2 separate regions of the Homo sapiens genome follow, and region 1 is linked to region 2. The links come from fine-mapping of genetic effects on gene expression. Tissue or cell type: monocytes after Pam3CSK4. Region 2 holds a variant in brackets; the other region holds the start of a gene. All regions are shown on one strand. Distances are between the middles of the regions.

Region 1 (8,107 bases), 170 kb after region 2:
GTTCTGCCCTACAGAAATTCCAGCCTAGGTGAAGAATGACACCCCTGAAATCATTTAAGTAGCTAACAAGGCAGTACACAATTAGGTGTCAAAATGAATGATGAATGATTAACAAAGACCACAAATTCAGAGGGAGCATGCAGGACTGAACAGAAATGGCGAAAGGCGGTAGGAGAGAGGCTGCTGCAGTGCCCCATGGTGAAGGCAGTGGGAGAGTGATCAAAAGAGGATGTAACAGGCACTGATGCCACTTGGTGAAGGGTCAAAACTGAATCCAGTGGGGCAGGCAGAATAATCATAGCATTAATAAAAAACTGAAAACTGGAGGTGGCGCAAGATAATTCTGCCCTGGACACATGCAGTGTGCACCAGCAGCTAGACACACACAGGGAGGAAGACAACCAACAGGCAATTGGAGAGCAGCAACTGTCAGCTAGGGCACAACCAGAACCGAGAAGTACAGAGTCACCGAAACAATGCCAGATGCTGCTTACAAGAGACCGTAGGGGAAAATTCAGCTGTAGGAAAAGGGCCTCTTGGTCTGGCAAGGCCAATCAGAGCGCTTGAGTCACATATAGGCAAGAGAGAGAACACCTAAAATATCAAGCACCTAGCAAAGATTTTATTTTCCTCCAAGAGTAATTTGGCTTATTGCTACTCTGGATAGTAACAATTAGATGAGTTTACATCTACTCCCAAAGCAATCTTGTTGGCAGATGTCTATGAGGGTCCACTGTAAGAATTAGAAGGAGGAGGAAAATGGTCATTAGCAAGAGGAAAAAAGGACACACTTTTTCCAACTACAAAACTCCAATGCTCCATCAGGCAACAGCCTTTAGTAAAAGCAGGCTACAAACGTTCATTAGTGAAGCACTTATTAAATAACATTCTATTTACAAGGCCCTAAATTAAAAGGTACCCACTCTACCCCATACAAAGGGTTAACACATCTCACTCTTAAGAAAATCACTTTCAAAAACATTTTAACATTATCGAGTAATAAGTAGGTTAAAAATAGTTTGGTTAAGAAAAAGTAAATAACACTCCTAGTCAATTTGGCTACCCTTAGAAAACTATTAGATTCTTATCTGTTTTCTTGTGGTCTTTAGTCCTATGCACTTTTCTCATATGCTTTGTAAATACTTTTGTACTGTGTTTTGCACCTATGTCACAAATACAGCTTAAAACAAAAATTTGTGCATGAAACTATAGTACACTGGCAAAAAATTTTTAAAGTCCTAATAAAGGCTGTCAAACGTTACCCTGCCATTTAATTGCCAATTAATAAAACATGTGACAATGAAATTTAAATTGTCATAAATTGAAACATTCTTGAAAACTTATTCGAATTTATATTTACTAGATACATAAACTATAGCTTCTCATTTATAATAAATGCCTTCCAAAAACCCACTTCACAATGAAATTATATTACATGATATATAATGCTTTTTTAAAAAAGGTCTTATTTGCCAGTCATAATGGGCTGCTTTATAATTCAAAAGACTACTAAAAGTATACATTTAATATATACACATACACATGTATTTTCACTATATATTTTAAAAATATATTTTCACAACTCACACACATTTTTGCTATTCTCAGTATCTAGATGTTAGCCTCAAGACAAAATCTTGCCACCAATCTAGAACTAGTTATTTGTAGTGATTATAACAACTTCTATCTCTGGAAACTCTTTCAAAGTCCTTACAAACTTTACATCACAGCCAAAACCATCTCAAAGGTACCTTTCCTCTGGACTAGTGATAGCACACTCCCATAGCTCAGTTAAGTCATATAGGATGTTAAGACAAGGAATGGTCCATGCTTCTGACTCAAGAAAATCAACATCAAGTCCAAACATGAAAAACTACATTAGGTAATTTATTTCTGCAGCTTTTCTTCAGGAGACAATGAGTTTTATTGTCTTTTAAAGATTTTGCAGTGAAATTATACAGTAATGAAGGAAAAGAAATACAAACATACAAAATACCTGCAGAATCATCATTAAAACTGCAGGTAAATCTTAACTTTGAAATTTTAAACTAGTTTATGCTACTTCAATAGACACAAAATTCCTCCGGGTGTGAATGATCAAACTGAACTCAGCCATCTTCAGAAATCTGCCCAAACTTGCTGAAAAACTCAACAGTACCTTTTAGGACAAATACTGTATTTGTGCCTCATCAGATGCCAGACTCACAGTGTCACAATCACGTAAGAAAATAAATTGCTTTTCCCCTACTTACTCAGAAACAATACTGGAATATGATCAGTTTTAAAGGAGAAGCCATTTCTGGAGATACCTTCACAGAATATTTGATTAGAACCAGATCTGTTTATGATGGGTAGAGGCCTATGTTCTATATCAGCATCATCTCCATTAATATCTTGGATAACCGCACACACAAATTGTTCATACAGAAAAGCATGGGCCACAAAGGATATCTGATTCACCCAGGCCACTGGCTGATTCAACCACCCCTTTAATACATACTTAACACCCTGGCAAGTATTCTCCTCATCCAATCCTTACACACATTTATGGGTATTAGAGAGGTGCACTAACATGTATAAACTATGCAAATGAGAAATTAGCAAATATATTTTAGGCTGACAGTTCTCAAACAAAAGGTTTGTTTACTTAACTTTACCCAGAGTAAAGTTTTTATTAGCATATAAAATGGCTGTTGGAAAAATCAGCAGCAGTAGAAGGAAAATACAAACTTAATGCTTTACTAGATTCAACCATTATTTCAATTCCCTGTGCTAAGGGCGCATGAAGACAGTCATTCACTCAAAGGCTAAGCGCCAGTGTGTCTGGCACTGTGCAAGGTAAGCAAAGGAACAGAAAAACAAGGACACAATACCCACCAAGGTCTACTTGAAGTCCCACCCAAAAAATGTCCATTAAATTACTGCACTATTTTGGGTTCACTGAACACCCACTACAGGCCAAAATGCTAGGTGCCACGATCACACATAAGAAAGAACACTCAACTAACTGCAGATCTGTGGCCAATGATGTATTATGACAACCCCAGGACCGACTAGTCCTAAAGCGGCAATATTTTATTCTGGAAATAATTTTGCTTCCATCAATTAATCCTTTCTATAGACGACAATTCTTTGAATAATTTCCACCAATGTTAACTCAGACTAAGGTTGCTTAGAGAGTTAGATAAGGGAATGTAATGTGGACAAAAATAAAAGAAACAGTATACTGAAGCACATTTGCACTTTAATACTAATTTGGTTTGTATTTGCTTTCACCTTCAGCAACAATAAAAAGCAAGTGACTTTAGTCATAAAGTAGAATGTTAACTCTAAAATTACCGTGGCAAGAAATTGTTTTCTTGTACAGGCAGTTTCATGTGCAATGCTAAACTAACAAGTTTTGCGTGGTTTGTTTTTTTTTTAAACTATTCACTTAGTCAATTCTTCATGAAGGCTCTGTGACCATTCACATGTCCCTTGGCTCAAAAAGAGGTAGTGTAGATGAAATTACACTGATTTGGTCTTCAAGATTACAAAATAATTTTTGACCCTGTCCAAGTACCCGTTTTGCAGCAGTACAATACTAATGAGATTTTTAAAATAGGGGCCAGCCCTTAACTGTAAATTATAGATAAATGCTTGCAAGCTGGCAACTTCACGTTTATTTTTAAAGGCTTTCACATCAAAGATAAAGGCACCGAATCACGTATTTTAAAATAAGAAATGTAAACAGGCTTTCAACAGCTTACTAAAGAGTTAAATGGAATTGTATTTAGGTCTAATAATAAAGTTATCAATAACGCAGAGACACTAAAGGAGGAAGCTACAGGACCAAGATTTCCCCTCGAAGAAATGTCTGAACAAATTCAAAGTGAAATTTTTTAAGCTGTGTCTCGCTATTTTTACCACATTTTAAAGTAAGCTCTGTCTGCATGCAACCAACCGCAACCAAGAAAACAGAAGTGTCCTAAAATGTACCTATTCGCCGCAATAAAGCCAAAAAATATGCCCCTCCTACCTAGCGGGCCAAGTGGCAAGAACGTACGAGAAGTCAGGAAGTTTTGAAATGGCAGTGACAGGAGACGGGGGAAGGCACGGGAAGGAATCACGGAGAGCGAAGGCCACTCCGTGCGGCGGGCGCCGCGAGGTCCCGGCTCGGGACGGTACCCGACCGCCCAACTTTGCGCCGGAGCCCCGGCCGCGGCCCTTCCTCCCGGCCCAGCCCTCCCGGCCTCCGCGAGAGCGGGGTGACAGCCCCGCCGCAGGGACGCCGCCGGGGGACACCCACCTTCCTTCTCGGCCCGCGCCGCAGCCACTACGAGGGTCATCACCAGGTGCAGCGCGCCTAGGAGGCCGGCGGCCGCGCTCCGCGGGCCCCCGCTACGGGCGGCCGCAGGTTCCAGCCCGGCCCCGGCGGACGTGGAGACGGCGGCGGTGGTGGCTCCGGTTGCTCCTCCTCCCGCCCGCTTCCCCATCCCTGCCGGCCGGGGGCCGCCGCGCTCGAGGTCCGGCGCGGCCCTTCTCGGCGAGGCGGCGGCGGCGCGGAAGCCGTGGTCCGGGCTCTGGCCGCGGCGCCGGGAGCGACAACGGTTGCGAGCCCGGGGCTCGATCTCCGAGCGTGGGCCTGGGTCCGTGCGTGCGTGTGAGCGAGAGTGTCAGTCACGGTCTTTGCCTGGGCATCGCCTACAAGCAGTCGGAGCGGAGAGGCCGCGGGTCAGGCGCGGCGGGCGGCCATACTGGAAACGGGCACGGCCCGCGAGCCCTGAGCGCTGGCCTGCGAGGGGCGGGGCGCGGCTCTGGGCACCGCCCACGCTGTGCCGACACCTGGGCTGTCCGGCGGTCAGTCTGTCCGCCCCGGAGCCCCCTGGGCCCCACCTCCTCGTCCCGCTCTCGGAGGCCTGCGGCTTCACGGCCAGACAGAACCAGGACAGAACAACCCCAGCCCGTTACCGCTACCTGGCGCAGGAGAAGGAGGGAGGCAGGCCCAGGTCCAGCTGCCAGGACTTATGATGGCGGCTTCTGCTTCGCGGAGGCGGTGTCGGCAATCACGTGGAGACGGGGCGGCCTCGCCGCGCAGCCGCCGCGTTGCGTGGGCGGGGCAGGGGCGGAGTTGCGGGGCGCTAACCTCTTCTCCGGCGCCTGGGCAATCCTCCGTGCTCTGTCCTACAGTGGTAGAGCCTTCCAGGGGTGTGAGTGCGCATACAGACCGCGAGACGAGCGCGGAAGGTCCGTTCCAGTGACTCTTCCTGGTGGCACCCCCACCTCTCGACCGCTTTGACGTCGAGAATACCCCGGGCCTGACTCAGTTCTTGATGGTGCTTCCTTGAGGATGGTGGCCCGCTGAACTCATCCTTGGGTCTTCCAAATCATGGTACCCAGGAGGAGCTTGATGGAGTCCTCTTGCCTTGGCTTGTGCCCACATTGGCGCGGAACACCTCGTGTGCAGAAAGCGTCGGTGACTCTGGATGGAGAAGGCAGGGGCAAACAGACTGCTCTTTAGAATATCCAGTAGCCGGCTTCCTCTCTCGAGGAAGAATTCTTTTTTTTCTTTTCTTTATTTTTTAATTATTTATTTATTTTTGAGACAGGGTCTGGTTCTGCCGCCCAGGCTGGAGTGCAGTGGTGCGGTCTGGGACTACAGGCACCCGCCACCACGCCACGCCAATTTTTCTTTTTCTTTTAAGAAACGCTGTCTCACTATGTTGGCCGAGCAGGTCTCGAACTCCTGGGCTCAAGCAGTCCGCCTTCCTCGGCCTTCCAGAGTGCTGGGATCACAGGCGTGAGCCACTGTGCTGGGCCCGGAAAAATTCTTAAGACGTCTGTTACCTTCACGAGCCATCTCGCGCCTCTTAGATGCCCTTTTCATCTTAGGTTGAGCTTCTTGGTGCGCATGGCTGTTGTCTCCAAGACTTAATTTAAGCTCTTGGAGGGGGTCCTTCTTTACTCATCTTAGTAACTTCCTCCCAGCTTGTAGCCCAGAGACATTTTACTTTCCTTAGCTGTATTTGTTGAGTGAGTCGATATATGTGTAAGGCCAAGTCTGCCCACAGTACGTCTCAGAACAAGCTAGATAGGAAAATAAGGTTTCAGAAAGACAAAAGGAACTCCAGAATCTACTCTATGAAGTAGTCCCCTGTGTCAAGCAAGCACTTAAATTTATTCATAAATTAATATATATTTAAATATGACCTTAGCCTAATGATTTTAAAAAGCAATTTTAGGGCAGGGCGCAGTGGCTCACGCCTGTAATCCCAGCACTTTGGTAGGCCAAGGTGGGCGGATCACCTGAGGTCAGGAGTTCGAGACCAGCCTGGCCAACATGGTGAAAACCCGTCTCTACTAAAAAATATAAAAATTAGCCGGGCGTGGTAGTGCATGCCTGTAATCCCAGCTACTCCGGAGGCAGGAAAAACGCTTGAACCCGGCAGGTGGAGGTTGCAGTGAGCCAAGATAGCGCCACTGCACTATACCCTCGACAAGAGCAAAACTCCGTCTCAAAAAATTAATCATAAGCAATTTTACTTTTTTGAATATTAGCCTTAAAATTGAGTAGTCAAATTTTATTTTGATGTAATGAAATAGGAATAATTATCTCTTAAGTTGGCGTTTAAAATGTCTGAGGCAAGAGATTTCTGGAAGGCTTTTGACTCACGGAAGAGATCAAACCCAAGGATATGTAACTGAGCGCTTTTGCTTAGCCTCCAACGTGCTAGCTCTGCAAGTCAGCAGCCCTTCCCCCATGGCCAGATTCAGGACAAACAAGCCTTTCCAACCATGAAGTGCTGAGGTTCTCTTACACAGCAATCAGCCACATCCCCTGGTTAGCCTGAGGCTCAGCAGCTCCATGGGAAATAACTTGCACCTGTCTGTAATTGGATCTTTAGACGTATACAGACATGTTTGATCAGAGTTCGATTTCCCATGCAGCTAATGAAGCTTAAGCCGCAGGGCCCCCTCTCTTGCACAAGTTCCTTCCAAGTCCCTGAACCTAATTGTGTATTTATAAGCCTGTATTCTTGTTCTTAAAGGAGCCCTCCCAATAGTTGGGTAGGCTTTTAAGGCCCACCATACCTGAACCCTCCCCTGTGCCTGAGGGACACTAGGAGCAGGAGGGGTGATGATGGAACTTTCCTCCCAGGAAAGGACAATGAGGCCACTGAGAGTCTAACAGTGAAAGACGTTTTGCTAGACAGCATGGTAAACTGTGTGTTAGAGAGAACCTGGCGTGGAGCCACCATCACCCTATGATCCTCTACCCCCACTCCCCAACCCTCATGTGTCTCAGGAGAGAACCAGGAGTTAAAATTGAAGGAACCATCACACTAAGGACTCTCAAATAGTTCTGATTAGTTGTGAACTTTTCTCTTTTTCCCTTTTGGAAATTGGAGAGACCTGGCCATTTGGCAGGTGGAGGTATTAGCTGGCAGAGTCAGGGAAAACTCGCTAAACCAGTGGTTCTCAAGGTGTCATCCCCAGACCAGCTGTAGCAGCAACACCTGGGAACCTGTTAGAAGTGCAAATTAGCAGGCCAAATCCCAGACCTGTGGAATCAGGAATTCTGGGTTGAGGTCCAACAATCTGTTTAAACAAGGCATCCAAGTGATTCTGATACAGGCTCAAGATTGAAGACTGTTGCACAGTGATATATGCCAGGAGCTACAAGCTGTTGGGACTCCTCACTTTCTGTTCATTTTGCTCTCTATGCAGGTTAGTAATTTACCATTCAAGGCAGAATTATAAGAGACTCAGACAAATTTGAACTTAAATCCCATCCCTGCCTTTACTAGCTATATGATGCTGAGCAAATGACTTTTCTGGCCTCAGATTCCTAATCTGTAAAAATGGGGATTATGATATAAATTTGGGGAGATTAAGCATATAGGTTTGTGAAGCATATAGACTAGTGTCTGGGACATAGGAGACTGTCAAAAGTAGCTATTAGTGAGCACTCACTCTTTTCAAAACACCACATTAGGCACGAAGATCCTTGATCCATTGATACCTCCACTTCATTCCACAAAATACTTAAGGAGGTGTGCAAGAATGCCTTCTATGAATTAAAACTGGAACTAGGAGGGAGTAAACTGTTGGGCTTTCCAGGGTTCTA
Region 2 (8,107 bases):
CCACCTGAGGGAAGTATAAATTATAATACTATCCTGCAGCTTGACCTTTTCTGTAAGAGGGAAGGCAAGTAGAGTGAAATACCTTATCTCTAAGCTTTCTTTTCATTGACGGAGAATCCACAACTATGCAAAGCTTGCAATTTACATCCCACAGGAGGACCTCTCAGCTTACCCCCATATCCTAGCCTCCCTATAGTTCACCTTCCTATTAATGATAAGCCTCCTCTAATTTCCCCCACCCAGAAGGAAACAAGCAAAGAAATCTCCAAGGTACCACAAAACTCCCCGGGCTATCGGTTATGTCCCCTTCAAGCTGTAGGGGGAGAGGAATTTGGCCCAACCTGGGTACCTGTCCCCTTCTCCCTCTCTGATTTAAAGCAGATCAAGGCAGACCTGGGGAAGCTTTCAAATGATCCTGATAGGTATACAGATGTCCTACATGGTCTAGGGCAAACCTTTGATCTCACTTGGAGAGATGTCATGCTATTGTTAGATCAAACCCTGGCCTTTAATGAAAAAAATGCGGCTTTAGCTGCAGCCCAAGAATTTGGAGATACCTGGTGTCTTAGCCAAGTAAATGATAGAATGACAGCTGAAGAAAGGGACAAATTCCCTACCGGTCAGCAAGCCATCCCCAGTATGGATGCCCACTGGGATCTAGACTCAAGATCATGGGGACTGGAGTTGTAAACATCTGCTGACCTGTGTTCTGGAAGGACTAAGAAGAATTAGGAAAAAGCCCATGAGTTATTCAATGATGTCCACCATAACTCAGGGAAAGGAAGAAAATCCTTCTGCCTTCCTCGAGCAGCTACGGGAGGTCTTAAGGAAATATACTCTCCTGTCACCCAACTCCCTTGGGGGTCAACTGATCCTAAAAGATGAGTTTATTACCCAATCAGCCACAGATAACAGGAGGAAGGTCCAAAAGCAAGCCCTGGGCCCTGAACAAAATCTGGAGGCATTATTAATCCTGGCAACCTCGGTGTTCTATAATAGGGACCAAGAGGAACAGGCCCAAAAGGAAAAGCGAGATCAGAGAAAGGCCACAGCCTTAGTCAAGGCCCTCAAACAAACCTTGGTGGTTCAGAGAGGAAAGAAAATTGAGCAGGCCAATCACCTGGTAGGGCTTGTTATCAGTGTGGTTTACAAGGACACTTTAAAAAAGATTGTCCAATGAAAAATAAGCCACCCCCTCACCCATGTCCACTATGCTGAGGCAATCACTGGAAGGCACACTGCCCCAGAGGGCAAAGGTTCTCTAGGCCAGAAGCCCCCAACCAGATAATCCAACAGCAGGACTGAGGGTGCCCGGGGCAAGTGCCAGCTCATGTCATCACCCTCACTGAGCTCTGGGTACGTTTAACCATTGAAGGCCAGGAAATTGACTTCCACCTGGACACTGGTGCAGCCTTCTCAGTGTTAATCTCCTGTCCTGGACGACGGTCCTCAAGGTCCATTACCATCCGAGGAATCCTGGGACAGCCTGTAACCAGGTATTTCTCCCACCTCCTGAGTTGTAATTGGGAGACTTTGCTCTTTTCACATGCCTTTCTCGTTATGCCTGAAAGTCCCACACCCTTATTAGGGAGAGATATATTAGCCAAAGCTGGAGCTATTACCTACATGAATATGGGGAACAAGTTACCCATTTGTTGTCCCCTACTTGAGGAGGGAATCAACCCTGAAGTCTCTGCATTGGAAGGACAATTTGGAAGGGCAAAAAATGCCCACCCAGTTCAAATCAGGCTAAAAGACTCCACTACTTTTCCTTATCAAAGGCAATATCCCTTAAGGCCTGAAGCTCATAAAGGATTACAGGATATTGTTAAACATTTAAAAGCTCAAAGCTTAGTAAGGAAATGCAGCAGTCCCTGCAACACCCCAATTCTAGGAGTACAAAAACCGAATGGTCAGTGGAGATCTTAGACTAGTGCAAGATCTTAGACTCATCAGTGAGGCAGTAATTCCTCTATATCCAGTTGTACCCAACCCCTATACCCTGCTCTCTCAAATACCAGAGAAAGCAGAATGGTTCACTGTTCTGGACCTCAAGAATGTCTTCTTCTGTATTCCCCTGCACTCTGACTCCCAGTTTCTCTTTGTCTTTGAGGATCCCACAGACCACATGTCCCAACTTATGTGGACGGTCTTATGCCAAGGGTTTAGGGATAGCCCTCATCTGTTTGGTCAGGCACTGGCCCATGATCTAGGCCACTTCTCAAGTCCAGGCACTCTGGTCCTTCAGTATGTGGATGACTTACTTTTGGCTATCAGTTCGGAAGCCTCATGCCAGCAGGCTACTCTAGATCTCTTGAACTTTCTAGCTAATCAAGGGTACAAGGCATCTAGGTCGAAGGCCCAGCTTTGCCTACAGCAGGTCAAATATCTAGGCCTAATCTTAGCTAGAGGGACCAGTGCCCTCAGCAAGGAATGAATACAGCCTATACTGGCTTATCCTCACCCTAAGACAAAACAGTTACGGGGGTTCCTTGGCATCACCAGCTTTTGTTGACTATGGATCCCCGGATACAGCAAGATGGCCAGACCACTCTATGCTCTAATCAAGGAGACCCAGAGGGCAGATACTCATCTAGTAGAATAGGAACCAGAGGCAGAAACAGCCTTCAAAACCTTAAAGCAGGCCCTACTACAAGCTCCAGCTTTAAGCCTTCTCACAGGACAACACTTCTCTTTATACGTCAGAGAGAGAGCAGGGATAGCTCTTGGAGTCCTTACTCAGACTCGTGGGACAACCCCACAACCAGCGGCATACCTAAGTAAGAAAACTGATGTAGTAGCAAAAGGCTGGCCTCACTGTTTATGAGTGGTTGTGGCAGTGGCCATCTTAGTGTCAGAGGCTATCAAAATAATACAAGGAAAGGATCTCACTGTCTGGACTACTCATGATGTAAATGGCATAGTAGGTGCCAAAGGAAGTTTATAGCTATCAGACAACCGCCTACTTAGATAGCAGATGCTACTCCTTGAGCAACCGGTGCTTCAAATATGTACATGTGTGGCCCTCAGCCCTGCCATTTTTCTCCCAGAGGATGGGGAACCAATCGAGCATGACTGCTGACAAATTATAGTCCAGATTTATGCCACCTGAGATGATCTCTTAGAAGTCCCCTTAGCTAATCCTGAACTTAACCTATATACTGATGAAAGTTCATTTGTGGAAAATGGGATATGAAGGGCAGGTTATGCCATAGTTAATGATGCAACCGTACTTGAAAGTAAGCCTCTTCTCCTAGGGAGCAGCACCCAGTTAGCAGAACTAGTGGCACTTACCTGAGCCTTAAAACTGAGAAAGGGAAAAAGAATAAATGTGTGTATACAGATAGCAAGTATGCTTATCTATTCCTACATGCCCATGCTGCAATATGGAAAGAAAGGGAGTTCCTAACCTCTAGGGGAACCCCCATTAAATACCACAAGGAAATTATGGAGTTATTGCACGCAGTACAAAAATCCAAAGAGGTGGCAGTCTCACACCGCCGAAGCCATCAAAAGGGGAAGGAGAAGGGAGAACAGCAGCATAAGCAGCTGGCAGAGGCAGGGAAAGACCAGCAGAAAGGAAAGAGAGAAAGAGACAGAAAGTCAGAGAGAGAGAGGAAGAGACAGAGACAAAGAGGAAGTCAGAGAGAAAGAGAAACAGTGAGAGAGGGGAAGAGACAAAGAGGAAGTCAGAAAGAGAAAAAAAGAGAGACAAAAAAGAAGTCAAAGAGAAAGAAAAAGAAATGGAAGTAGTAAAGAAAAAAGTGTACCCTAGTCCTTTAAAAGCCAGGGTAAATTTAAAACCTATAATTGATAATTGAAGGTCTTCTCTGTAACCCTATAACACTCCAATACCACCTTGCTGTCAGAGTAAACAAGGACATAGCCTGAAAGCACTGAGGTCACTGACAACCAGTAGCCTTCCTATCAAAAATCCTTAACCCAGCAGGTTTCCTAACAGGGGATCTAAATCTTAACTAATTACTATACAAAGGTCCGACCAGACCTAGGAGGAACTCCCTTCAGGACAGGACGATAGATGGTTCCTCCCAAGCAATTAAGGGAAAAAGACACAATGGGTATTCAGTAAGTGATAAGCAAAAAAAAAAAAAAAAAAAAAAA[T/A]TTTAAAATCCCAAACTTACAAGGTTTTCAACAAAAGTTTGCTAAAAGTTAACAGTGTTGGGGAGGAGTGGCAGCGGCAAGGCAGCCCAGTTTCGTGAAGGCTCTTGGCGCGCCGCGGCCCGCAGGCACCTGGCACGCGCCTTCCCCGCCGCCAGGATGCCCAAGAGGAAGGTCAGCTCCGCTGAAGCCGCTGCCAAGGAAGAGCCCAAGAGGAGATCGGCGCGGTTGTCAGCTAAACCTCCTGCAAAAGTGGAAGCAAAGCCGAAAAAGGCAGCAGCGAAGGATAAATCTTCAGACAAAAACGTGCAAACAAAAGGGAAAAGGGGAGCAAAGGGAAAACAGGCCGAAGTGGCTAACCAAGAAACTAAAGAAGATTTACCTGCAGAAAATGGGGAAACGAAAACTGAGGAGAGTCCAGCCTCTGATGAAGCAGGAGAGAAAGAAGCCAAGTCTGATTAATAACCATATACCATGTCTTATCAGTGGTCCCTGTCTCCCTTCTTGTACAATCCAGAGGAATATTTTTATCAACTATTTTGTAAATGCAAGTTTTTTAGTAGCTCTAGAAACATTTTTAAGAAGGAGGGAATCCCACCTCATCCCATTTTTTAAGTGTAAATGCTTTTTTTTAAGAGGTGAAATCATTTGCTGGTTGTTTATTTTTTGGTACAACCAGAAAATAGTGTGGGATATTGAATTATGGGAGGCTCTGATTGTCTCGGGTGTCAGCTTAACATTCCATAGATGGGGGGTTAGTTTTTATATCCTATAATACAAAGCATATTAAATGGCAATATGGAGTCAGTCCTGCATTTAATGTCTTGAACATTTTAAATTACTTCTATTACCATGTTGTTTTTTAGTAGAATTGTTTCCTAAAGAAAACCACTCTTTGATCATGGCTCTCTCTGCCAGAATTGTGTGCACTCTGTAACATCTTTGGTTGTGGTAGTCCTGTTTTCCTAATAACTTTGTTACTGTGCTGTGAAAGATTACAAATTTGAATATGTAGTGTACGTGCTATTGAGTTGTGAACTGGTGGGCTGTATGTAACAGCTGACCAACATGTGAAGATACTGGTACTTGATAGCCTCTTAAGGAAAATTTGCTTCCAAATTTTAAGCTGGAAAGTCACTGGAATAACTTTAAAAAATAATTACAATACATGGCTTTTTAGAATTTCGTTATGTATGTTAAGATTTGTGTACAAATTGAAATGTCTGTACGATCCTCAACCAATGAAATCTCAATTATGAAAAAAAAAAAGTGTAACATATATTATCCTAACTTCTAATCTTATGGAAATCAGACATAGGGTCTGTGCCCCTCAAAGCTCAAGTGTCTCAGCACAGGGCCATACAACTAACACCCCTACTTATAGGGTTAGAGATGGCCACTGCTACAGGAACCAGAATAGCAGGTTTATCTACATCATTATCCTACTACCACAAACTCTCAAAGGATTTCTCAGACAGTTTGCAAGAAATAATGAAATCTATCCTTACTCTACAATCCCAAATAGACTCTTTGGCAGCAGTGACTCTCCAAAACTGCTGAGGCCTAGACCTCCTCACTGCTGAGAAAGGAGGACTTTGCACCTTCTTAGGAGAAGAGTGTTTTTTTACACTAACCAGTCAGGGATACTACAGCGTTTACAGGAAAAGGCTTCTGAAATCAGACAACGCCTTTCAAACTCTTTCAATGCCTTTCCAACTCTTATACCAACCTCTGGAGTTGGGGAACATGGCATCTTCCCTTTCTAGGTCCTGTGACAGCCATCTTGCTATTACTCGCCTTTGGGCCCTGTATTTTTAATCTCCTTGTCAAATTTGTTTCCTCTACGATCGAGGCCATCAAGCTACAGATGGTCTTACAAATGGAACCCCAAATAAGCTCAACTAACAACTTCTACCAAGGACCCCTGGATCGACCCACTGGCCCTTTGACTGGCCTAGACAGTTCCCCTCTGGAGGACACTACCACTGCAGGGTCCCTTCTTTGCCCTTATCCAGTAGGAAGTAGCTAGAATGATCATTGCCCAATTCCCAACAGCAGTTGGGGTGTCCTATTTAGAGGGGGGATTGAGAGGGGAAGCCAGCTGGATTTCCTGGGTTGAGTGGAGACTTGGAGAACTTTTCTGTCTAGCTAGAGGACTGTAAACACACCAATCAGTGCTCTGTGCCTAGCTAAAGGATTGTAAATGCAACAATCAGCACTCTGTAAAAATGCACCCATCAGCGCTCTGTATCTAGCTAAAGGATTGTAAATGCACCAATCAGCACTCGGTAAAAACGCACCAATCAGCGCTCTGTGTCTAGCTAAAGGATTGTAAATGCACTAATCAGCACTCTGTAAAAATGCACCAGTCAGCACTGTGTCTAGCTAAAGGATTGTAAATGCAACAATCAGCACTCTGTAAAATGGACCAATCAGCGCTCTGTAAAATGGACGAATCAGCAGAACATGGCGGGGAGCCAAATAACGGAATAAAAGCTAGCCACCCAAGCCAGCAGAGGCAACTAGGGTCCCCTTCCACGCTGTGGAAGCTTTGTTCTTTCGCTCTTAATAAATCTTGCTGCTGTTCACTCTTTGGGTCCGCACCACCTTTAAGAGCTGTAACACTCACAACGAAGGTCTATGGCTTCATTCTTCAAGTCAGAGAGACCAAGAACCCACCAGAAGGAACCAACTCTGGACACACAATGAAGGCTTGACCATTTTTCAATATGCTTAAAGGCTAGAAGTGGGAGTTCATCAACAACAAGCACAATATTTTTTGAGTGTTATCAGCCTGTACAACACCAAGCCAGAAATAGCAAAGCAAGGATGTTTGTTAAAATATAGTCACTATTAGTAAGAATTTAAAATAGTTGATGAAATTTTTTTCATGTGAAACACACCACTTTAAGATTTTCCTTACCAGATAAAAACTTTACATTAGTATTGCTACCTTAAAATACGCTGCAGTAATAACAAAGAAATATTCAACTGAAAACTCATGTTTTATACAAATGGTCTGAATTCTTCACTCATTATCAGTTAAAAAAAAAAAAAAAAAAAAAAAACCAAACCCAAATTGTTAAAACCCATTTTCCAGGGAAACAAAAAGCCAACAAACAAACCCAAGACAAAACACTTAAGTAGCTGGCCCATTCTGGTGGCTTTAAATGACAACTCATACACAATCAACACCTTGTAGTAAGCATATTTATACAACAACCTGTTAGTGACTATTGCTAACTCAAAGATAATCAAGAAGTATAAAACTATTGCAAGTTTCCCAGGAAAGGCAGTTCGCAAGCTTGCATATGTTCTAAATATAGTTCTAGGCTTTTCTCACAACATTCAGACCCAACTAATGCTCAGTAACCCTCAAGTGAAATTCAACGGTCCGGAACATTCTAAAACTGCTTATAAAAGCACTTGAGCAAATAAGGAAAAAAGCACTTTCAGCATTTAACATTGTATTTCTAATAATTTGTGTATGAGTTCACTAAAGCATATGTTAAGCTGATATTATGATTCCGATTTGTTAATTACCAAGGGAAACCTCATGCAAACATTCCTCTGAAGGCATCTCAGGCAAACTTACTCCATCATTTATACAGCACTAATGTTTTGTAAATGCTGAGGAAAGCCATTTTCTCAAAGTTGCATTATAGACATATTAGGAGAGTTTGGACCTGCGCATCCTGTCTGTTAGCAGTTGAGGAACTTCTATTTGGAATTGCTTGCTTTAGTAATCCTATATTTAGAAAGAGAATGAATTCCCTGAAGGGGAATTTAAAAAAAAGATCTCCAGCTTCTAGCACTGCTTAGCAAATCCTGAAAATTCTATGTTTGTGAAACAAAAGGAGACAGGAACCTTTCTAAATATCTATAGTCTCTAAGCCTGGTGAATTATGCAGAAAATGCTGAAACACACAGGGAAAACCTTAAGAAGAGCTCTGAAAACTCAGTTTCCACGGTAGGTGGGCTTGCCCCA

Alleles and levels. Alleles are on the strand shown, and positions count from the first base shown. SD is a standard deviation of normalised expression in the study named.
With allele T in place of A in region 2, the expression in monocytes after Pam3CSK4 of the gene that starts at base 4,761 in region 1 is lower (large effect, 1.1 SD a copy in Quach 2016).

What was found. PIP is the estimated chance that this variant, and not a neighbour inherited with it, causes the effect.
Region 1: TMEM131 starts here. The variant in region 2 is fine-mapped to the expression of TMEM131 in monocytes after Pam3CSK4 (Quach 2016, PIP 0.95).

What each region holds. Positions count from the first base shown.
Region 1 is chr2:97,991,188-97,999,294 of GRCh38, forward strand. It overlaps TMEM131 (transmembrane protein 131), which reads right to left and starts at 4,761. Exons shown (of 41, transcript NM_015348.2): 1 at 4,289-4,761. The coding sequence starts at 4,475. LOC124905591 (a long non-coding RNA gene) reads left to right here and starts at 6,456. Exons shown (of 2, transcript XR_007087148.1): 1 at 6,456-7,707. RefSeq lists enhancers at 2,795-2,874, 4,507-5,020, 5,191-5,470 and silencers at 4,051-4,610, 4,721-4,970.
Region 2 is chr2:97,822,970-97,831,076 of GRCh38, forward strand. The region is part of intron 11 of TMEM131 (transmembrane protein 131); the gene reads right to left. It also overlaps the pseudogene HMGN1P36. Among named protein-coding and RNA genes, the nearest start is that of ZAP70, 110 kb to the left of the region's middle. The variant T/A (reference allele first, on the strand shown) is at 4,123.